Homo sapiens: one gene and its partners. The protein of the gene in region 1 interacts with the protein of each later gene in a pairwise test. Each region holds a gene or a part of one and is shown in the gene's direction. Other genes may lie near its edges. The genes, in order: TPD52L1, EIF3J, PAK6, ABL2, PBX3 and GPR135.

Region 1 (3,552 bases):
GCACTAAGCATTTTGCATCTTGTCAAGCAGACCATATTTTTAGTGCATCTACTTTTTGATAAATACATTACATGGCCTGGACCAAAACCTTAAAAAAAAAAAAAAAGGGCAAGTTGCATTACATGTTTTTTTTCCTTTTTGTATTATGAGAGATTAGGAAGCCAGTTTTAATAAGGGATTTTTAGCAGTTTTAATAAGGAATTTTTCAAAATACTTAGCCTTATTTTTAAATTGTAAGTTAATTCCTTCATGTTTCTATGCTTAGTCAATAACAAATACACAAGAAAAAAGCCTCATAAACCATCATAACTGCATTGTAAGGAATATTCATACTGTAAGGGTGTATTAATTCCATTTCACGCTGCTGTGAAGAAATACCTGAGACTGGGTAATTTATAAAGGAAAGAGATTTAATTGACTCACAGTTCCACAGGGCTGAGGGGGCCTCAGGAAACTTACAATCATGGCAGAAGGGGAAGTAAATATGTCCTTCTTCACATGGTGGCAGGAAGGAGAAGTGCTGAACAAAAGGAGGAAAGCCCCTTGTAGAAGCATCAGATCTTGTGAGAACTCACTCACTATCACGAGAACAGTATGGAGGTCACCGCCCCCATGATTCAATTACCTCCTACCAGGTTCCTCCTTGCTAGGATTATGAGGACTATGGGAACTACCATTCAAGATGAGATTTGGGTGAGGACACAGCCAAACCATATCAAAAGGCAGTTGCCTAAGATGATGTGAAATCACCAGTGATTAAGACTTGATCCATCTTCAATTTTCAAAGCAGAAACCAGAAATCATTTTCCATTGAGCCACTCTGACTTTTCAAAAGACATTTGTCAGAAATCCAGTTTGCCCTGCTAACTCCCAAGTAGAAAAATCTAAGTTTAGGTCATGTAAGGATGTTTATACATTTGTACAATTGGAGGAATTAATAAAAAATCTAATTCCATTTTGATTAGATCAGTTCTCTGGGTGAGTGGAGATAGCTGTTCCAAGTCCATGGATCCGATTATGCTCCTGAAGGGATTAAAATCTTAGATACAGGAGAGATAAAGAGAGGGTTGCTAAAAGTGTGCAAAATTAAAGTTTGGAATCCTATCCGAGAACCCAAGTATGAATAATATTCTAGCACTCTACTAAAGGAAACAAACTTCTGTGCATTCTTTTGTCTCTAAAGATAGAAAGTATTTCTGAATTTGAAAGTAATCCAGCTTTTGGTATTCTTATAAAAACATTACAAAAATGATAGTAACAACTAACTGCATTTTTGTGGATCTGCTCATTTCAGACGAAAGTAGGCGGTACGAACCCTAATGGAGGCAGTTTTGAGGAGGTCCTCAGCTCCACGGCCCATGCCAGTGCCCAGAGCTTGGCAGGAGGCTCCCGGCGGACCAAGGAGGAGGAGCTGCAGTGCTAAGTCCAGCCAGCGTGCAGCTGCATCCAGAAACCGGCCACTACCCAGCCCATCTCTGCCTGTGCTTATCCAGATAAGAAGACCAAAATCCCGCTGGGAAAAACCCAGGCCTTGACATTGTTATTCAAATGGCCCCTCCAGAAAGTTTAATGATTTCCATTTGTATTTGTGTTGATGATGGACCACTTGACCATCACATTTCAGTATTCATAGATGACTGTCACATTTTAAAATGTTCCCACTTGAGCAGGTACACAACTGGTCATAATTCCTGTCTGTGTAATTCGATGTATATTTTTCCAAACATGTAGCTATTGTTTGCTTTGATTTTTGCTTGGCCTCCTTTATGATGTGCATGTCCTTGAAGGCTGAATGAACAGTCCCTTTCAGTTCAGCAGATCAACAGGATGGAGCTCTTCATGACTGTCTCCAGCAATAGGATGATTTACTATAAATTTCATCCAACTACTTGTGATCTCTCTCACCTACATCAATTATGTATGTTAATTTCAGCAATTAAAAGAATTGATTTTAATGACTTTGAATTCTTAATTTCTTTGTCTTAAAAGTTGCTAGTTATGATTTTACAGATGCAATTTTAAATCAACTTTTAGCCAGGTGCGGCGGCTCACACCTGTAATCCCAACTATTTTGGATGCCAAGGTGAGAGGATTGCTTGAGGCCAGGAGTTAAAGATCAGCCTGGGCAACACAGACCCTGTCTCTACAAAAAAAGAAAAAAATTAGCCAGACATAGTGTTGCTTGCCTGTAGTCCCAGCTACTCTAGAGGCTGAGGCAGGAGGATTGCATGAGCCTAGGAGTTCGAAACTGCAGTGAGCTATGATTGCACCACTGCACTACTCCAGCCTGGGTGACAGAGTGGGACACTGTCTCCAAAAATAGTAATAATAAGTAGTCAACTTTTACTGCTAATTTGGTGAACATGAGAGAGGATATGAAAATAAATATTACCTCAGCTATCCTAGGATGTTAAAATAATCTCCAATTTTAAAATTCTCTCCAATCTACATACAGTAGTAGTTAGTCAGATAAAGGATATCCAAAAAAGAGATAGCTAGAAAATGGGAGAAGCAGAGTTCTGCAACCCCTTTCAGTTTGTAAATTGTTCACATGTATGAAAATAACTGGTATTTATCAATCCACTCAGATTTCTGCACTAACTTTTATCTTATATATCATATGTATCTCTTTTCTTTTTCTAAATGGGAACATATATTTGTTATTAGGTGGCAGAGATATAGCCTTAAGATATATTTGTAAAATGCACACTGAATAGACATCCAACCTAAAAAAAATCACTATTTAAAAAGCCCATATAATATATACATATTTGTTAGCATGCTAATTGTTCATGTTTTGTGTTTATTAAATAGAAGTGATATATATGACATTTTGAAGTAAAGCACATCTGAAAAATTCTACTCAAATTAATGGAGCATGACAATCTGTGCAATCTGTACACCTAACTGAAAATCAAGGTGGTTCAGGACAACATCATCTCTGAGGCCTGGAATCTTAGCAGAGAGAATGGGGCTGTAAACTTGACCAGAGTGGACAAATGTAGACAAAGAAAGCTCACTAGCAGGGATGCTGGCATTCTCCCTTATTTGTGCTTCCAGCCTGTTGGTTGAAGTAGAGGCAGGAAACCAACCCTGCCCAGCTGGTTCTCAGGCCGTGCTGGCTCGCCCACCACAGCACACAAGTACTCAGTCTCTGTGCCCAATCTATAGCTGCCTGTTGAGTGTGAAGTGGCTAACTTGTGAAAACTCCCTGCCACCTTCTTTTTTTACCATATTCAGCACACCGCATTGTATTAGATAAAGTTATGGTACTTTAAACAAATATCTCCGTTCACCAACCAATTTCTGCACACCATAGTCTCAGCCTTATAATCTGAAAACACAATATTAGAATTGGATAGAAAAACAATCAAGAAAACTTGTGGTAATATCTTAAAGCTTCCAACACATTTTAGCTATTTATTTTATTCCATTCATCAAAATTCTGATTTCATTAGTTTGGTAAGAATCTTATGCACATCATCTCTATTCATCTAAAAGCTTTTCATTATTCACTCTGACCTAGAAGTGATATTCATAATGGCCATGGCA
Region 2 (3,917 bases), on another chromosome or scaffold:
CGTGATCTGCCTGCCTTGGCCTCCCAAAGTGCTGGGATTACAGGCATGAGTCACCACGCCTGGCCAGAATCACTTCTTTTGCTACTAAAATCCATTCTGTGATGGAGTAGGGAATGTCTAGGTAGCTTCATTATGTCTGCATTGATGTGTGTCTGGGGTAAGGTTTATGCTTTGATGGGAGAAACTAGGGACAGGGATAGAGGTGGACATAGAGTTGGTGTGAATGTACTGAGGGAGCAGTGATATGGGTGGGGTGGGGGTTATGTTTTTCTGGGAAGGGTAACTGAAGAGCATCAACATTAAATAAAAATGCTCCTGTGTTGAGTTTGTTTCTTTACCTTGGAGGTATTGAGATGGAGCTCCTTATTTTCAGCCATACTTCTTCCTTCTTGACCTCTTACTACCAGAGGCTTGCAGACCAGTTTTTTTCTTTTTTCTTTTCTTTTCTTTTCTTTTTTTTTTTTTTAGACGGAGGCCTTCTCTATCACCCAGGCTGGAGTGCAGTGGCGTGATCTCGGCTCACTGCAACCTCTGCCTCCCGGGTTCAAAGTGATTCTTGGGCATCAGCCTCCCGAGTAGCTGGGACCACAGGTGCACACCACCACGCCCTGCTAATTTTTTTTGTATTTTTAGTAGAAACAGGGGTTTGCCATGTTGGCCAGGCTGGTCTTGAACTCCTGAACTCAGGTATTCCACCCACCTTGGCCTTCCAAAGTGTTGGGATTACAGGCGTGAGCCAACTCATCTGGCCCAGTTTCTTAAATTAGTAGAAAACTGGCCAGGCGTGGTGGCTCACACCTGTAATCCCAACACTTTGGGAGGCTGAGGTGGGTGGATCACCTGAGGTCGGGAGTTCAGGACCAGCCTGACCAACATGGAGAAACCCATCTCTACTAAAAATACAAAATTAGCCAGTTCGTGGTAGCACATGCCTGTAATCCCAGCCACTTGGGAGGCTGAGGCAGGAGAATCGCTTGAACCCAGGAGGCAGAGGTTGCGGTGAGCTGAGATCGTGCCATTGCACTCCAGCCTGGGCAATAAGAGCAAAACTCCATTTAAAAAAAAAAAAAAAAAAAAAGGTGGGAGGGGCCAGGCACGCCTGTAATCCCAGCACTTTGGGAGGCTGAGGTGGGTGGATCACGAGGTCAAGAGATCAAGATTATCCTGGCCAACATGGTGAAACCCGGTCTCTACTAAAAACACAAAAATTAGCTAGGCATGGTGGTGCATACCTGTAGTCCCAACTACTCAGGAGGCTGAGGCAGGAAAATTGCTTGAACCTAGGAGGCGGAGGTTGCAGTGAGCTGAGATTGCGCCACTGCACTCCAGCCTGGCGACACAGTGAGACTCCATCTCAAAAAAAAAAAAAAGATCAGTAGAGAACCACTACAGGCAATTTAAGGTGAGAAGTTTGGTAACCAGTATACCTCTAGCTGGGCATATCTTAATATGTGTAATAATCCTTCTCTTTATGAGATTCCCAGAGTTCCCAGGAGAGGGACTTAGTTCCCAGTTAGTTATTTTATACTTCAGGACTCAGGGAAGAAGTCATATTTACTATAATACTATTTTTATTTTTATTATTTTGCATTGGAATTGCATTGGAATTGCTTTATTCCAGCGAATTAAATTGTTTACCAGACTGTGAATTTTGTAAGCAAGTGTTTAAAACATGCTTTTTAAAGACCTTCCTTAACATTGTGTTTAAAGCCTTAAATGAAGCTGTTTACATGTATACATTTAAAGGATGTATCTCAGCATGTTACTCTAAAGATGTGTTGTAAGCTGCTTTATTACAGTGAATTGAACTCTACTAAACCGTGAACTTTGTAAGCAAGTGTTTAAAACATGCTTTTTAAAAAAGTAAATCATTTTATTTTCAATAAAAAGGTCAGTCAAATGTTTAGTTATTTAAAACTTTTTTAAAATTAGTTTTTATAATTGGCAAATAATGTACATATTTATGGGGTATATTGTGATGTTTCAATGCATGTATACATTGTAATTACCATTTCATCACTTTAAACATTTATCATTTCTTTGTGGTGTTAACATTCAAAATTTTCTTATGGAACTATCTTGAAATATATAACATTGTTATTAGCTATAATCACCGTACTGTGTAATAGAACACCAGAACTTATTCTTCTAACTGTAACTTTATACCTATGACACTTTAAAGAACTTTGGTCCATTCAGAGCAGGTCCCTTAGTTTTTCACTGAGATTGTGGGTTGGCTATGTCTGGGCCTGGGTTTCCTTTTCTTTAAAATGGGGGAATAACACTACCTTCTTACAGGACTGTTGTGAGAATTAACCTTGTTACTACACCTGTTTCTCAGAAGGGTTTTAAATATGCATCTTCTGGAAGTAAGCAAATGGTCCTCCTATCTGAAACACTGCCCCCTATCACTCACAGATCCAGCCTTCCTGTGTTCTGTGAAGATTTAAACAACAAAAAATGCCTAGTAATTCACTTTTATTTTTAGCTCTTTGGTTCCTTTTGTACTGTGATGTATAGCACTTAGCAAACTAACGGCGAAATACAAACGTTTGATCTCTAATTTCTAACTCTAGTATCACAGTTACTCAAATAATGACTAGCTGGTTTGCTTTCAATCTGTTAAAACTGCGAGCTGTGGGTTAAATTGCTGAAGTAAGATGAATATAAAAATACACTTACTTTTTAATACAAAGTTCCTTTAATTATGCTTGCAGACTGTATGACAGCCTTAATCAGGATGTTGAATTTTTAATTTCTTTACTGGACTTAGAGATTTTTATTAAGAACCAAGGCTTGGTTAGTTTATATTCCTAGACTGATACAAATTTGTGATCTGTCGTGTTATGAAACCAGAAGCTTGGTGTCATATTGTGGCATATTAGTCATACTAGTCAGCCTTTGCTTCTTTAGTAGCATCAGGGCCTCTTGCCCTGCTTTTGCCATCTTGCCACTCAGCTTCAAATGGCATGTCATAGTGTGCCTGGTGGCTGCTGAGACAATGGCCAGGCTACCTATGATTAAAGCCATCTTTAATCATAGGGCTGTGTCTGTCCCTATTAAACTTGAGCCTTCTAAGTTCTGTGGAGCTTTTAGAAAATTGTGTTTGATAATTGGTTTATATTTAGCTCAATGATTGAGTTAGGCATAGAAAAAACAGAGTATAGATCTTTTTTTTTTTTTTTTTTTTTTTTTTTTGAGACAGAGTCTCTGTTGCCTAGGCTGGAGTGCAGTGGCTCGATCCTGGCTCACTGCAGCTTCGCCTCCTGTGCTCAAATGATTCTTGTTCCTCAGCATCCTGAGTGGCTAGGATTACGGGCGTGCACCACCATGCCCACCTAATTTTTGTATTTTTTAGTATAAACGGGGTTTCATCATGTTGGCCAGGCTGGTCTCGGAACTCCTGGTCTCAAGTGATCTGCCTGCCTCGGCCTCCCAAAGTGCTGGGATTAAAGTGCCCTGAGTTAGAGAGTGGGATCCATGAAGGCTTGATTAGCTGTTGACTTTTTTTTGTGAGACGGAGTTTCATTCTTGTTGCCCAGGCTGGAGTGCAATGGCGCGATCTCGGCTCACCACAGCCTCTGTCTCCTGGGTTCAAGCAATTTTCCTGCCTCAGCCTCCCGAGTAGCTGGGATTACAGGCATGTGCCACCACACCCAGCTAATTTTGTATTTTTAGTAGAGACGGGGTTTCTCCATGTTGGTCAGGCTGGTCTTGCATTCCCGACCTCAGGTGATCTGCCTGCCTTGGCCTCCCAAAGTGTTGGGATTACAGGCGTAAGCCGGCCTTGATTCTTTTTTTTTTTTTTTTTTTTTTTTGAGACGAAGTCTCGCCGCACTGTCACCTGGGCTGGAGTGCAGTGGCACAATCTTGGCTCACTGCAACCTCCCACTCCTGGGTTCAAGTGATTCTCCTGC
Region 3 (3,917 bases), on another chromosome or scaffold:
ACCCTATGAGCTGTCTTTCATTAACCCCCCTGGCTCAGATCATTTCAGTTATTTGTTCAAAATCTCTCCAAATTATTAGTGGGAGACTCCCTACAACTCATCTGCAACTCACACAGGTTGTTTTATTCCAAAGGGCTTGGTCTGTAAGGGTCCTGTACATGTGGCTCTACCTCTAGGGGGTGTTCGGTGGATCCCGAACCTCAAGACCCAGAAGCATGGCTGACATTGAGATGTGACGTGGGCTCTGATTGAGTCACGCATGGTGAATTCCTAGTGGGGAACCACTGGCTGTCCAGGGTCCCTGCCTTTCTGCCAGCTGCCTCCCAGATCTGCGACCTCCTTCAGAACCTGCCAAAATGACTAGGAAAATGCTGTTTCCATAGCAAGAGCCAAAAGAGAACATGACGGCCCTGCACTCCAGATCTTCGGGCGGATGAGTAATCCAAGCTTTCAGTTCAAGAATCATGTTTCAGTTTCTTGAAGCCTGGAAGTGACCTTTTCAGATACATAAGAACCCAGTGAGCTGTTCTGAGCCTCTTCAGATCCAAAAGCATTCAAGAGGCAGCCCTGGCCCTGTCTGCCATCAACATGTGATCCCAGGTCCGGGATCCCCTGAAGGCGAAACTAGAGCAACCCTTTGGAAGTGTCCCTCCCCTTCCCAGGCCCCCAGTTCCCCACTCTCAGATCTACCCATGCTATCCATTGCAAGCCTGTGTCACTTCTGTGTATGCAGCTCAGCACGACCTTAGGCAAAGCCAGAATCAGCAAGGCACGGGACACAGGCTTGATTGCAGGTTAAGTGTTTTATTGTTTGTTTTTTGAGACAGAGTCTCATTCTGTTGCCCAGGCTGGAGTGCAGTGGGGCAATCTCAGCTCACTGCAGCCTCAGCCTCCTGGGTTCAAGCGATTCTCCTCCCTCAACCCCATGGGTATCCGGGACTACAGGCACGTGCCACCAGGCCCGGCTAATTTCTTTGTATTTTTAGTCAAGACAGGTTTTCACCATGTTGGCCAAGCTGGTCTCAAACTCCTGACCTCAGGTGATCCACCCGCCTCGGCCTCCCAGAGTACTAGGATTACAGGCATGAACCACCATGCCCGGCCCAGGTGATGTTTTACATAGAGCTCCAATACCAGAGAGAAGAGTGTCAAGGGGAGGTGGTGCTCTCTGCCTTCTCTGGAGAGCTTTACCCCTAAGTTAGCTGCCCCTCACCCACCCCAGGCTATCCTCTTGGCTCAGGGCCTTTCTGGAATTGAGGTAAAGCACATGGTAACCATGAAGGCCCTTTGGGGGCTCCCTGATACATAATAGTCCCACACCGGGCAGCATGTCTGTGATCAGCTGGTTGGCTTTTTATTAACGTATCATATTAACAGGTTCAACCATCCTGGGACAAAGCTGAGTTGTAATAAAAAAAAAAAGCCAACAAAAAAATAACTTTAATATACTGTTGGATTCAATTCGATAGTTTTAAGATTTTCATAGTTACGTTCCTAAATGATATTGAGTCAAATTTTCCTTTTCTTGCACTCTCCTTATCTGGTTTTAAGAATCAAGGTCATACTCGTTTCATAAAACAAGCTTGCTAACTTTCCTCCCTCTTTCCCCATTTTTAAAATTCGTTGACAGACAGTGGAATGATACTTGTAATGGGCTTTGGATTTTATAAAAACACACCCCCAGAGTCTGCCTGCTCCATAGGGGACTTGGCACAGGCAAGAAGACACCTCTTTTCCTTGTTTATAGTCTGCACTGGCTTATTTATGGCACGTTTGTTGTTTCTGGGACTGTTCTGCTGGGAGCCAGCCATTTCCCTGAGGAAGCAGAGATGGAGGTGGAGGGAAGCCCTAGGCTTCTAGGGGAGCTGTGCTGGGGGAGGGGAGGGAGCCCTGAACCTGGTGCCCCAGGCCCTGCTGCAGCCACCCCTCTTTCCCGGGAGGGAGCTCAACCTTACTCTGCACTTACAGGCACCATGTTCCGCAAGAAAAAGAAGAAACGCCCTGAGATCTCAGCGCCACAGAACTTCCAGCACCGTGTCCACACCTCCTTCGACCCCAAAGAAGGCAAGTTTGTGGGCCTCCCCCCACAATGGCAGAACATCCTGGACACACTGCGGCGCCCCAAGCCCGTGGTGGACCCTTCGCGAATCACACGGGTGCAGCTCCAGCCCATGAAGGTAAGAGGGGCCGGCAGGGATGAGGTTCAGCCTCTCCCAGTACTCAGACAACCATGCCTGGCTAAACCTCAGAAAGGCCCCTGGAGGAACCACCTACTTCACAGCTATCAGTTAATCAGCTGTTTTAACTCCCTGCCTGTCAGCCTGCCATTCTCTCCCTGGGTAAGCCAGGGCGAAGGAGGCTGGGGAGACCCTCTCTGCAGGGTGGTGGGGTTGCCAGATTCAGCACATGAAAATGTGAGATGCTCAATTGCATTTGTATTTCAGATGACAACGAATAGTCTTTTAGGACGTGTCCCATTCAATATTTGGACCTGCAGCCCCATAGGGACTGAGGGCTCTCCCAGACCAGGAGAATTTTAGTTGTGAGGGTCACGACTAGTAGACCCAAGAGCCTGGTAGAAGGTGGGGTCAGGGGCCCTATCAGGGTTTGGAGGCTGCGAAGCCAGTGTGTGTGGAGGAGCCCCCGGCCTGGTGTCTCTTCCTCAGAGGGCTGGGCACATCTCTCCCAGCCACCCGTGGAGCTAGAGAATGGAGCCCCGCCCCCTGAGCTCCAGCTCCCTGGCCCAGCCGACCACACCCCTGGGCATGCTGGATGCAGCCCCATGGCACTCACCATCTGCTCTGCTGACGCTGGGCCTTCTCCCCGCATCCCTGCATCCAGCACAGGCGGGACCCACGGTGGGCCCTGATAAATTATGGAAAAATTAATGGGTGGATGACACAGCAGGGAAGGTCCTTAGGTGGTCCTCCCCAGGGCCCCCAGGGACATTCTCTGACCCTGATCTCCCAGCCACCCCTCCCTGCCACAATTGGGCAGCTCCCACACACTCTTTTCTCTTCCCCCTACAGACAGTGGTGCGGGGCAGCGCGATGCCTGTGGATGGCTACATCTCGGGGCTGCTCAACGACATCCAGAAGTTGTCAGTCATCAGCTCCAACACCCTGCGTGGCCGCAGCCCCACCAGCCGGCGGCGGGCACAGTCCCTGGGGCTGCTGGGGGATGAGCACTGGGCCACCGACCCAGACATGTACCTCCAGAGCCCCCAGTCTGAGCGCACTGACCCCCACGGCCTCTACCTCAGCTGCAACGGGGGCACACCAGCAGGCCACAAGCAGATGCCGTGGCCCGAGCCACAGAGCCCACGGGTCCTGCCCAATGGGCTGGCTGCAAAGGCACAGTCCCTGGGCCCCGCCGAGTTTCAGGGTGCCTCGCAGCGCTGTCTGCAGCTGGGTGCCTGCCTGCAGAGCTCCCCACCAGGAGCCTCGCCCCCCACGGGCACCAATAGGCATGGAATGAAGGCTGCCAAGCATGGCTCTGAGGAGGCCCGGCCACAGTCCTGCCTGGTGGGCTCAGCCACAGGCAGGCCAGGTGGGGAAGGCAGCCCTAGCCCTAAGACCCGGGAGAGCAGCCTGAAGCGCAGGCTATTCCGAAGCATGTTCCTGTCCACTGCTGCCACAGCCCCTCCAAGCAGCAGCAAGCCAGGCCCTCCACCACAGAGCAAGGTAAGTCAGGAGCCTGGCCTGCAGGTGTCCACTGGGGAGTGGGTGTAGGGACACAGGCCTTGCCTAGCCTTCCCCTTGGAGGACTGGCAAAGAGGCTCCCTGGACTGCTTCCGCCTAAGGCGGCAGAAATGTGCACGGTAACCTCTTCTCTAAGGAGGGTGGCTCGCCTCCTCCTTCCCTCCCTTCCTTTCCTTCTTTTCTCTGTGGCTGTTGTGTTGTTTCCCATTTCTGTCA
Region 4 (3,917 bases), on another chromosome or scaffold:
GCATTTTAAGATTTAAATTAGATAGAAAGTTTCTTAGGATTCAACTGAAAATTGGCTAGTAAAATATGTCCCAGGTAATAAAGCATGCTGACTTTGCTAAGGCACTGCCCATTTTTATTTAACTAAAGTCATGGAGATTTTGAGTTTAAAGGATGCAGTATAGATAGTGGTTTAGTGTTTAGGCTCTAATGCCAGTCTAAAAGGCAAGTCATTTAACCTTGGGAGCCTCAGTTTCCTCACTGTAAAACAGGGATAATAATAGTAACTACCTCAGGGTTGTTGTAAGGATTAAATGAGATGATATTTGTAAGATACTTAGCTCAAGTGCCTGGCACACAATGAGCACACTCTATAAATGTTCTACTACTACTATTATTAACACCTAGTCTAGGGATGCACAGCAGAATCCCCTAGGGTTAAAAAACAAAACAAAACAAACAAAAAAAACTGACGGAATAGCCCCACTCCAGATCAGAATTCCCAGTGGGCTGGGGTCTCGGCCAGTGTATTCTCCAGTAATCTCGCCAGGTGTTTGAAACACCCAGTGCTATCTGAAAACTATCAGTACCCCAACCCTTTGGTTTATAGATTAAGAAACTAGCAGAAGATGGTTAAATTACTTGCCTATTGTCTCAGAACGGTTAATTAGTGGCGGAGCCAAGGCTAGAATTCAAGTCTCTTGACTTTATGGTTGTGGGGTCTTTCCACCATACCTGCTGCCATGTGAGACACTGCAAAAAAGTGGCTCAGACCGACAATCAGCCTGTGTGGTGCTGCACACTTTCTAAAGCACATGCTCCTGACACTTTGACCTTAAGGGGCTTGAATGTGGAGTAATGGGAACACAAGCCAAGCAAGCACTCAGTAGAATTCAGTCATTTAAAAAATTCAATGGGGTCATTCTTTTGGACAGACCTCAGCAACACAGCAATGTGCACTTTGTAGTAAAGAAATACCAACTTGAGTTTTTAAAAAACCTAGTTAGTCCTACATTCCCTTTTCTTTAAAAAAACTTTATTGTTCACATTATTTTAATGACTATGAGATAATGTATATGACAGCACTTTGAGAAAATATCAACTGTAATATAACTATAAGGTTGTAGTATTGTCTGTTTAAAAGATAAGACAGTTGATTCAATGTGGATGGACCCTGTGGGGTACCTGAAAATGTAGATACGTAAGAATCACCTCTGTCATTTATCACATTTAGAAATATGAAACTGCTTAACAGGTATGAGCAGGTATAGCAAGTGTTTGCTAAAGTTGTAGTTCAGAGCTGAATTACTTCAGGAAACTAGGGACCAACTTTTTGGTTTAATTCCGATCTTTAAAAAGTAAGAATGTGTACTCACTCCAGAACACAGAAGCTCTTCCAAGGACCTTGACTCAAGAAGGATGAGGTCCTCTTACTCTTCTCCATTTATCCACTATATGCTTGGCCATTTATCCTAAATGTGGTGGGAACAGACTTGTTATCTGTTGATGTTGACAGTGTCTTTTTTAACCTATGTCCTGCATAGTTTTGTTAGGTTTACAGGGGGAGGTGGATGGCCATAAAACCAGTGCACTTTGGGAATTACTTTTCTAGGATTTCCTACCAGTTATAAATGACATTGACATTTGTCATCTTTTTTTTCTTTTTCTAAAAAGAATAGCTGAATTTAATTCACCTATTATAAAATACTCAAAAGTAAATTGCCTTGGTGGCCACTTCTGAATTATAGCTACATTTCATTATGACCCCTTCTGCTCCCTTCCATTTTGCTACTGATGTCATTCTTGTTATCAGGCTGTGCCCCTACCAGGAGTTCATATTGGGTTGACAGGGTTATCTATATTTTTGTTCTTGATTTTTGAGTTTCATCATCTTGCATTAAATTGTTCCACCTGGATTTGGGGTTCATCTCTGTGCCCTAAGGATCTGCTATGACCAATCCTCTTTTTGTAGGTGGGTCTCTGGCTTAAGTATTGATAGGCTTCAGCGGTTTGTGTCTCTGTCTTAGCTTGTATCAAGCCAGTAGTAGCTCACTTCCTTTGTAAATTCCTGCTTCAGTCTGGGATCCGTAGGAGTATGTGAGAACTTCTGAAACGTCTCCAACTCTTAACAGTCAAGATATCTATATCATTTGGATAGAGTTCTGGTTTTCCAACTACTAGACTTAAAGAAATTCTGGCCGGGTGCGGTGGCTCACGCCTGTAATCCCAGCACTTTGGGGGGCTGAGGCGGGTGGATCACGAGGTCAGGAGATTGAGACCATCCTGGCTAACACGGTGAAACCCCACCTCTACTAAAAATACAAAAACTTAGCTGGGCGTGGTGGCGGGCGCCTGTAGTCCCAGCTACTGGGGAGGCTGAGGCAGGAGAATGGCGTGAACCCAGGAGGCGGAGCTTGCAGTGAGCCCAGATCGCGCCACTGCACTCCAGCCTGGGTGACAGTGAGACTCCGTCTCAAAAAAAAAAAAAAAAAAAAAAAAAAAAAAAAAAAGAAATTCTAATGCAAAGCTTGCTTTTTTTTTCTTTTTTCCAGCAAGCCAGTAGTAATAGTTATTGTTACTTGCTCTGTTCAGCACAACTGTAGTTCACTTGAACTTCACTGTCATTCCCTACGCTCCTCTCTTACTGAGAAGCATGGGTGGGATTCAGGGCTGTGGGACAAGCTACAGCCTACTCTGGAGCACTCACCCCCATGACTCAGTCCAGCCTGTCTCTTGGGAAGTTTATTGCAATGTGCAGACGGATGAATTTCTGCTTTTCATGCCACCTCTCTGAGGTATGTATTCTATCTTGAGTATGTACAAGATGATACCTTTTGGCTGGGCACAGTGGCTCGTGCCTGTAATCCCAGCACTTTGGGAGACCAAGATGGGCGGATCACTTGAGGTCAGGAGTTTGAGACCAGCCTGGCCAACATGGTGAAACCCCGTCTCTACTAAAAATATAAAAATTAGCCGGGCGTAGTACATGCCTGTAATCCCAGCTACTCCCGAGGCTGAGGCAGAATTGCTTGAACCCAGGAGGCGGAGGTTGCAGTGAGCTGAGATCGCGCCGCTGCACTCCAGCCTAAGTGACAGAGTGAGACACGTTAAGAAGAAAAAAAAAAAAAAGGATACCTTCATTTCTGACTCAATATCCTAGATCCAAAGGACAGGAAATTAGGGAAGGCTTCACCCTGTGGGATCAAGATAAGAAGATCCCATACTTCTTCCCAGGTAAGGAGGCCTGTGGCAGGTCATGATTCAAAGCTGACTTGGAATGGCAGAAACTGCTGAGAGGCCACCCTTGGAGATTTGTGCCTTCAAAGATGGGTTTCATGAGTCTCAGAGAGGAAAAGACTTGTCAGCTGGGTTGATTTTGCATGATTATTGAACTAGAGCTGGTAGACACGAGCTTCTCAGATGGCAGTGGCCAGATCCTCCATCTGTGAGAATCCGCCACTTGAAGTGGTTTCCTGAGAGTGTTCACTTGGCAGTTGCTGCGTTTCTCAAGCCCACCTGGCGAGGTCTCGCCGGACCCTTCCCTCCAAGTGCACTTACTTCTTCATCCCCATGTACATCTCTAACTTTGAAATTGTTTACCTCTCCTACAAAAATCTTACCTTTTGACCTGAGCAGAGTAGCAAAGCCCTGTTCACTCTGAGGGAGCAGCTGGCGTGTTGAAGGGGAAAGGCCAGGCACAGCACTGTCCTCAGACCACACCATATTTGGAGCAGAATTGTGATACATGTCATCTGTGTCTATTCTGGAAGGTTCTTTGTTCATCACTGTACTCGCATCAGCAAATTTTCAGGGTCCTACCTGTCACTCCAGGCTACTGAGCTGAACCCTCAGAAGCTGAGGTCTCCGAGCATGCTAAGTAACCTTTTAGAAAAGCTGGAGGCAAACTGTCGAATGCTAGCAGGCTTTATGAAAGGAAAC
Region 5 (3,917 bases), on another chromosome or scaffold:
ACGGTAGCTTTAGGTTAGCATATAAAATCAGAGTTGGTGATCAGTTGAGTACTTGGCAGCTTATAGATGTTATGTCATGTAAGTTACACTAGACACAAAGTGTGTACCACTGTGGATAAACAACAACAGGCACAGACTCAAAAGAGAATCCAAATACAAACAAGCAAGGTGCCAACTTCCTTTTCCCCTCTTCCCCAAGAAGCCTTGTAACTAGTGTAGGGAACCTGCTTTGAAGCAGATTTACAGAGGTTAATTGGGCTGGGATGTTTTAGATTATGTTACACATTAATGAAAATGCTGATTTTGAGCTGTCATGACTCCAATGCTTTTTATACCATGATAATTATTTTAAAACTTTGTCTTCTGTGTTGTTGAAAACATTTTGGCAGAAAGCCTGTGTGACCTGATTAAACCTATGAATTGTCAGCTATGATCTATAGTACTCAGAAGAGGTTGCTGACTGGGCATCACTTAGGAAGTTCTTGATTTAAAAGCAAAATTAGATTGAGACTACTGTGCCCAGCACTGTATTGCCATGTCAATGGCACATTTTTAATACTGTATTTAGTATCCTCGTTTTATAGTTTGCTGGCAATTGCTTAACAATATTCATTTAATAATATATATATATTTAAGTATAGCCAGTTACCTCATAATGTGTGTATTCCTCTTCTGAAATCACACGATGGAAAAGCTCATCTAATGTTGTTTATTTTTCAATTTTTGATTACAGCTTGTGAATTAACTATTTTATGGGAATTTTAATTCTGTTTCTCCAACTGTACAGAGAGAGACAGAATAACCACCTTTGGATGAGTTGTTTTATATCCCTGTAATTATTTTCTTTCTTTCTTAAAACATTCAATTTTTTACCCTCTTCCCATTTTATGCTTAAATTATCTAAATCTGGGAAGCTTGAATGATTAAAATATTCCAGGAAGCCAGGGTTACCTTTTTCTAAGGATCTAGTCTGTGGTAAATTGAGGCGGTGGGGGGGTATTTAAAATTCTAGGGTGCATGTAAACACTATCTTAAAAATAATTTTCATACTTATTCAAACTTACCGATCAAATGTGAACAATGAAGTTCTCAGCATGAATTGTAGTACACTGATGTTGTTTGATCATTTTCTCGAATAAACAAAATACTCACACTATTTGTCCTCTGTTTCTCGCTTCTTCTCTCTCTGTCTCTCTCTCTCTTTCCTTGAAGGTCTCAGCATCAGAGGAGCCCAGGAGGAGGACCCTCCCGATCCCCAGCTAATGAGACTGGACAATATGCTTTTGGCAGAAGGGGTTTCAGGTCCTGAGAAAGGTGGGGGATCGGCGGCAGCAGCTGCAGCCGCGGCAGCCTCTGGAGGTTCTTCAGATAACTCTATTGAACACTCAGATTACAGAGCCAAATTGACCCAGATCAGACAAATCTATCACACAGAACTGGAGAAATATGAACAGGTCAGCAGCCGCCACTCTCATAGTCCTACACAAACCCTCTGTTGCTCTTCTATTAGACCATGCTAACCAATTCTGAGGGCTGTGAGGGGTAGGTGTTAACACAAATTACAAAATAAATAAGGTCAGTGCAAAAATCCAAGTGAATTGTTGGATTCATGAAAGGAAGACCCTTTGAGATTTTGGAGGAGGAGCGCTACCTATTTTATCCCATCTACTTGTTTTAGTTTTATTCATTCCGCACATTCACGTGCCCTTATTACCACACCTGCAGTCATTCTTCCCTCTCACCTCACCACTTGGTGCTCTTCAAAGCTCTGTATAATTAACATTTATGCACTAGCCTTGTTCATAAGCTTTAATCACTTTTGAAGGGAAGCATTGCACAGTGAGCTTTTCCCTCCTATGCTGTGAGCTCCAGAATCCTCCTGGGAATTAATTCTTATGGATTGTGCCAGACTATAGGGAACTTCACCAAGTAAGCAGGTTCCGGCCTGTTTCTCTGAGTATGAGACCTCCCAAGATAATTATGGGTACCCCAGGACAGGGAATGCTAGGCAAGGCATTATGTGCTAAATTCCTTATTAGAAAGAGAATATGGGTTAAAAATCTGGTTCTCAGCAATTATATTAACCATACTGAATCTCAGATAACTTTAAGTTGCATCTTTATGTAACACCAAGAAAAAATTAATACTGCTAGTTTAACTATAAAATATTACTGATTATAAAATGCTTTCACATTTCAGAGATGTTAAAATGTGGAGAAAAACAAGAGAGTCTTAGATTTAATGTAATAAAGTAAAATATTGGTGGGTCTTTTTACATATATTTTAGTTGTTAGTTTAATGCTGAAAAGCTGCCAAGTTTGAGGAATTCTCATTTGATAAGATTTGTCATTTGGAAGGTAATTTTAAAAACGTATTATGAAACATTTTATAATACATGTACACAAAAATAATGAGAATAGTATTAGATTGAACCCTATGAAATTGCTAAGTTTTGAGGCCAAAAACAGTTGAATATGGTAATTTCATAGAGTTCAACCCCAAATAAGGAATCAGAATCAGCTAGATACTTTTTACCCAGATAAACAGTTATCAACATTTTGCCACTCTTATTTTGTGTACCCAGCCCCAATTTGGTAAGAGTATTTTAAAGCAAGTCTTAGACATCCTATAATTTCACCCATGAGTATTTCACTATGTAGGCAAGTACTTTTTAAAGTCCACACACTTTAGTGTGAAATGGGAGTCCTGGTGAGTTTTGTGTGTGTTTGTGTGTATTTTAAAGACTCTTTTAAAGAGGAGTTTTAAGTTCACAGACCAATTTGAGAGGAAAGAAGAGAGATATCACATATACCTCCTGTCCCCACACATGCATAGTCTCTCCCATTATCAGCATCCCCCACCAGAGGGGTTCATTTGTTAAAATTGATTAACCTACATTGACACATCATTATCACCCAAAATCCATAGTTTACATTAGGGTTCACTCTTGGTATTGTGCACTCTATGGATTTGGATAAATTTATGATGGCATGTACCCATCATTATAGGGTCATGCAGAGTATTTTCACTGCCCTAAAGATCCTCTGTGCTATTCATCCCTCTCTTCTTTTATTCTTTCCTTCCCACTGATCCCTGGCAACCCCTGATCAGTTTTAATACTGATTTTTTCCCCTCTACATTCCCTGTATAGTTTCAATTATATATATCGTTGTTTTTTCACATTGCCTTTTCTAATATTCTGGATACAATGGTATTAAGCAAATGCTGAATCCTATCCCAGAGGTGAGTGTGTTTTGAGGAAGAGTAGAAAAATTTGTATAGCTTTAAGTTAAAAAGTAGTGTAAATTAATATTATAAGGTGTTTTCTATTTTTGGAATAGGATTTTCTGAGATCTAAAATTGTATGTCTAGTCTCATTTGTAAGAATAACTTCTTGTGGAAAATGTACAAATAAGAATTTTGGAAAAATTATCGTGTGTATGTATGTAAAAATCCCACTTTCTGATTTGACATATGAATAATTGAGAGTAAACAAAATAAGTCATGGTTGAAAAGGTTGCCCCTGAGCATAAACAGTAGAAAATGACTCTTATTTGTAGTATAATCCTAATTGTATAACTTTATGCTAAAATAACTATAACTACTTACTAGATAAACACTACCAGTCACCTTGCATGGAAAGAGATATAATATTAGAGGCCAAATGGCCTGAGTTTTTTGGCTGAGGAATTAAGGTGATTCCTTACTACCTCTTGCCATGTGTCTTTACACCTGCCTCCTTACTTTCTCCATACACTCTGGTGGAAGTTGTGTGAAGCTGGTGTCAGTCAATGACAAGGTCCTGAGTCTCACTGTTTTAGAAATATCCTACAAAATTTTCCATGAGATTTTATGTAACTTTAGCCCCAGCTTATACCAGCATCAAATCACCAGGGTTTTTTTTTATTGTTTTGTTT
Region 6 (4,605 bases), on another chromosome or scaffold:
GCACACTGTAATATACTGTGTTGGCCGGTGGCTTAAGCTTATTTGGGCTGGGTTTCCTATCTTATATGTTGTTTCCTAAAACTAAGCACAATCTGAGAAGATTGTGTTTGCCAAATAAATTAATGTATGATAATTATATTTTTGCTTTGATTGACAAAATTAAGACAAAATCAGTCTAGATTAAGCTGGCATTGACTGCTCCCAAGAGGATATTTGGCAATATCTGAAGACAGTTTTAGTTGTCACAGCTGGGAGAGGTGCTACTGGCATCTCGTAGGTAGGAACTAGGGATGCTGCTGAACATCATACAATGTATAGATGGCCCCTGCAATAAAGAATTATCTGGCCCAAAAGTCCATGACGCTTAGGCTGACAAACCCAGTTTTGGTTTGCCACCTTAAACGTTCTTCTATTTATACTGTAAATTTCCTGTAGGATATTTTTTCTGAATGAAATAAGCACTCCAATACTAATACCATTGATTCTAAGATCTACAAATATACTAGTCATTCTTTAGAGCAGTGTTTCTCAAATTTGTGCATCAGAATCACTGGGAGGGCTTGTTAAAACATAGGTGCCTGGGCCCCACCACAGGAGTTTCAGTAGATCAGGGGTATCCTATGCACTGTAGGCCTGATAATTTGTATTTCTCAAGGTTTCCAGGGGATGTTGATGCTGCTGGTCCAATGTCCATACTCTGTGAACCACTGCTTTAGCGAAGAGCCCAGGGTTAGTTAACCTGAGGGTTTATCACACTTTTCCCCATTAGAGGCCATGCCCAGAAACTTGAGATGCAACTTCCCTGGGTAGCCCTGCCTTTCTTTTCCCCGTATCTCCCAGCCAGGTACCTGGAGCTGCATCTGTGGTGATTGCCAGGCTGGCAGCACCTTAGACTCAAAACATACCCCATTCCTGAGAACAGATGAAGGCTGCTAGCAGGGCAAGGCACCAATCCCTCTCCCCCCATTTATCAGCCAGTAGGGGCCTGAGGTCCAGGCCCTTGGAAATGAAGTAACATCTAAAGGAACTATCCTAGCTCCTCAGAGCACCTGTATCAGAATCACCTACGGGGTTTAGAGTCATGGGCCCATCCTTAGTAATTCTGTCAGCCTGGGAATCTGCATTTTATGAAACTCTTGACATCAGTGCTTCTGTAAGTGTGGTCCTGGGACCAGCATCATCATCACCACCCGCGAACCCGTTAGAGATACAAATTCTTGGGTACTTCCCCAGACATATTCGAAACGCTGGGGTTCAGACCTCGTCACTTGTATTTTAACACGCCCTCTATGTGAATTCTGTTAGCTCAAGTTTGAGAATTACTGGTTTAAATTAGTCTGCTTCTCAAGTTTAAGATGTCTGGATGTAGACTTCTGGATTTTTCTTTCACTTCACTTTCTAGATTCCTTTCCTACCTGTATATACCAAAAGCACCCACAGGAAGCAGAGTGCCCCCCCCACCACTCCCCAAAAGGCCTGCCTGTAGAACATTTGTACCCTACAAAAGAGAGCAAGAGTGAACTTTCGTTGAATCTGGTCATTTGTTTGCATGCCAGTCGGCACTTTATCTGGCCGGACATTGGTCCCTCAGGAGGTCGACCTGGCACTCTCGGAAACCCGAACACCCGGGCCGGTAACCTCCGGAGTGGCGGTGTCGCGGGTCGGCTTTGCAGCGGGTACTGGGCTGCCGTCCCGCCCCGCGCTCCTGCGTAAACACGCGGTTCCCTCGGCAACGCTGGAACCCACGTCAAAGGCTCCGCCAGGTCCCCAGCGACCGCCACCCCTCCGGCCGAGCCCAGCTCCCCGCGGCGGCCGCTAGCCCCCGGCCCCGAGCCACCACTCCGACCTAGCGGCCGCCGCCCCCGGTGCGGGATGAGGAGATCCGCGGCCGCCACTGGGCCCCATGGAGGAGCCGCAGCCGCCCCGCCCACCAGCGAGCATGGCCTTACTGGGCAGCCAGCACTCCGGCGCCCCCTCCGCGGCCGGCCCACCTGGCGGGACTTCCTCCGCGGCCACGGCGGCCGTGCTCTCCTTCAGCACCGTGGCGACCGCGGCGCTGGGGAACCTGAGCGACGCAAGCGGAGGCGGCACAGCTGCCGCTCCCGGTGGCGGCGGCCTTGGCGGGTCCGGGGCAGCGCGGGAGGCGGGGGCGGCGGTGAGGCGGCCGCTAGGCCCGGAGGCGGCGCCGCTGCTGTCGCACGGAGCTGCAGTGGCGGCCCAGGCGCTCGTCCTCCTGCTCATCTTCCTGCTGTCTAGCCTTGGCAACTGCGCGGTGATGGGGGTGATTGTGAAGCACCGGCAGCTCCGCACCGTCACCAACGCCTTCATCCTGTCGCTGTCCCTATCGGATCTGCTCACGGCGCTGCTCTGCCTGCCCGCCGCCTTCCTGGACCTCTTCACTCCGCCCGGGGGTTCGGCGCCTGCCGCCGCCGCGGGGCCCTGGCGCGGCTTCTGCGCCGCCAGCCGCTTCTTCAGCTCGTGCTTCGGCATCGTGTCCACGCTCAGCGTGGCGCTCATCTCGTTGGACCGTTACTGCGCTATCGTGCGGCCGCCGCGGGAGAAGATCGGCCGCCGCCGCGCGCTGCAGCTGCTGGCGGGCGCCTGGCTGACGGCCCTGGGCTTCTCCTTGCCCTGGGAGCTGCTCGGGGCGCCCCGGGAACTCGCGGCGGCGCAGAGCTTCCACGGCTGCCTCTACCGGACCTCCCCGGACCCCGCGCAGCTGGGCGCGGCCTTCAGCGTGGGGCTGGTGGTGGCCTGCTACCTGCTGCCCTTCCTGCTCATGTGCTTCTGCCACTACCACATCTGCAAGACGGTGCGCCTGTCGGACGTGCGCGTGCGGCCGGTGAACACCTACGCGCGCGTGCTGCGCTTCTTCAGCGAGGTGCGCACGGCCACCACCGTCCTCATCATGATCGTCTTCGTCATCTGCTGCTGGGGGCCCTACTGCTTCCTGGTGCTGCTGGCCGCCGCCCGGCAGGCCCAGACCATGCAGGCCCCCTCGCTCCTCAGCGTGGTGGCCGTCTGGCTGACCTGGGCCAATGGGGCCATCAACCCTGTCATCTACGCCATCCGCAATCCCAACATTTCGATGCTCCTAGGGCGCAACCGCGAGGAGGGCTACCGGACTAGGAATGTGGACGCTTTCCTGCCCAGCCAGGGCCCGGGTCTGCAAGCCAGAAGCCGCAGTCGCCTTCGAAACCGCTATGCCAACCGGCTGGGGGCCTGCAACAGGATGTCCTCTTCCAACCCGGCCAGCGGAGTGGCAGGGGACGTGGCCATGTGGGCCCGCAAAAATCCAGTTGTACTTTTCTGCCGAGAGGGACCACCAGAGCCGGTGACGGCAGTGACCAAACAGCCTAAATCCGAAGCTGGGGATACCAGCCTCTAAGACGGTTGGAATGGCCAGCTTATGAAGGCAAATTTCCACTCGCATTATTTAATGATGGAAGATTCTGGGGGAGAGTTGTGGATTTCATAAAGCCAAACATTTAAAGCTAGAGACGGGGGAGGCTTACCACTTTCCCCAAACAACATAAAAGACAATGTCCCTTCTTCAAAAGTGCCAAAAGGAATGTAAAATGCAAAAATTAAAACAATCTTAAACCACATAACCAAGCATTGTGAACTGTAAGTGCCAAAAATGACAAAAATAACATTCACTATAACTGAAAAGCTCATATTATAGGACCACACTGTGAAACAAACAAAACATTGAATGCAACCAGTATTGTTCAACTACACAGAATTTCAGGAATGAATGGAGACCTTCAGAGCTGCTTGAAAGCCCCTCTAAATCGCTACCATCCAACAAAACTTTAGCTTCTAGAGCTTGCACCTCTGACATGCTTTGGGTGCTTAGATTGCAAGTGGAAAAGTCTTATCCTTACACACATTGGTGCACCTCCTCACCCCACCCCCTAATAACCTTTGTGGAAAATTTTTAATTCATAACCCATTTAAAATCATTTTAGGATTTTGAAAAGCTGGTTATTATTAGATAAAATTCAACCATCTGAAGGACAAATAGAAGTATGAACATAAAGAAATGTGTCTTTTAAATGTTTTCCAAGATTATATGTAAAAATTAACATTCCTTCCACCCGCGTCATACCTCCAAAATGATCTTCCTTGGAAAACTTTGAAGTTTTATCCTTACTCTAACCTGTTACTTTTATTTCTGATAAATTTTGGAATGCTGCTCTCAGAATGCTTTCACATTTAAAAAAATATTTTCATTGTAGAAAATTTTTGTCTTTTGAGGTAAATTTGATTTTTGGATATAGCCAAAAATGTAATTTGAAGTCAAGTTGATTGAATAAGGTGAGTGATGCCACTTTATTTAAATTTTTATTATTTTTTAAAATGAGACCTCTATAAAACAACAAGGTTGGGTTTCCTACGTGGCTTTTAGCTAACTGAAAACGATTCCAAAGAGAAATTCTAAAACTATTTTGAGAAGCAGCCTCTTGGAATTAGCGTAGACTTTTCCAAATAGATCATACCCTCCTACATTTAGAAATTTGGTATATTTTGTATTTTTTAAAATAGCTGATGGTTGCTTTATAGCTATGACTTGTCGAAGATAATGTATTTATTAAAGGGAGA

Evidence for each region.
Region 2: the proteins of TPD52L1 (region 1) and EIF3J interact in a two-hybrid assay, tested with the Homo sapiens proteins (one large-scale study listed by BioGRID and IntAct).
Region 3: the proteins of TPD52L1 (region 1) and PAK6 interact in a two-hybrid assay, tested with the Homo sapiens proteins (one large-scale study listed by BioGRID).
Region 4: the proteins of TPD52L1 (region 1) and ABL2 interact in a two-hybrid assay, tested with the Homo sapiens proteins (one large-scale study listed by BioGRID and IntAct).
Region 5: the proteins of TPD52L1 (region 1) and PBX3 interact in a two-hybrid assay, tested with the Homo sapiens proteins (one large-scale study listed by BioGRID).
Region 6: the proteins of TPD52L1 (region 1) and GPR135 interact in a two-hybrid assay, tested with the Homo sapiens proteins (one large-scale study listed by BioGRID and IntAct).

What each region holds. Positions count from the first base shown.
Region 1 is NC_000006.12:125,261,540-125,265,091, forward strand, and holds the end of TPD52L1 (tumor protein D53), read left to right. Parts: intron 1-1,294; coding exon 1,295-1,423; 3' UTR 1,424-2,868; downstream 2,869-3,552.
Region 2 is NC_000015.10:44,543,647-44,547,563, forward strand, and holds part of EIF3J (eukaryotic translation initiation factor 3 subunit J), read left to right. Parts: intron 1-3,917. UniProt on the Homo sapiens protein: Component of the eukaryotic translation initiation factor 3 (eIF-3) complex, which is required for several steps in the initiation of protein synthesis.
Region 3 is NC_000015.10:40,262,813-40,266,729, forward strand, and holds part of PAK6 (serine/threonine-protein kinase PAK 6), read left to right. Parts: intron 1-1,968; 5' UTR 1,969-1,973; coding exon 1,974-2,177; intron 2,178-3,029; coding exon 3,030-3,683; intron 3,684-3,917. Other genes in the region: BUB1B-PAK6 (serine/threonine-protein kinase PAK 6), read left to right, coding at 1,974-2,177, 3,030-3,683. UniProt on the Homo sapiens protein: Serine/threonine protein kinase that plays a role in the regulation of gene transcription. The kinase activity is induced by various effectors including AR or MAP2K6/MAPKK6.
Region 4 is NC_000001.11:179,100,568-179,104,484, reverse strand, and holds part of ABL2 (tyrosine-protein kinase ABL2), read left to right. Parts: 3' UTR 1-3,917. UniProt on the Homo sapiens protein: Non-receptor tyrosine-protein kinase that plays an ABL1-overlapping role in key processes linked to cell growth and survival such as cytoskeleton remodeling in response to extracellular stimuli, cell motility and adhesion and receptor endocytosis.
Region 5 is NC_000009.12:125,914,474-125,918,390, forward strand, and holds part of PBX3 (pre-B-cell leukemia transcription factor 3), read left to right. Parts: intron 1-1,212; coding exon 1,213-1,454; intron 1,455-3,917. UniProt on the Homo sapiens protein: Transcriptional activator that binds the sequence 5'-ATCAATCAA-3'.
Region 6 is NC_000014.9:59,462,525-59,467,129, reverse strand, and holds the start of GPR135 (G-protein coupled receptor 135), read left to right. Parts: upstream 1-1,749; 5' UTR 1,750-1,903; coding exon 1,904-3,388; 3' UTR 3,389-4,605.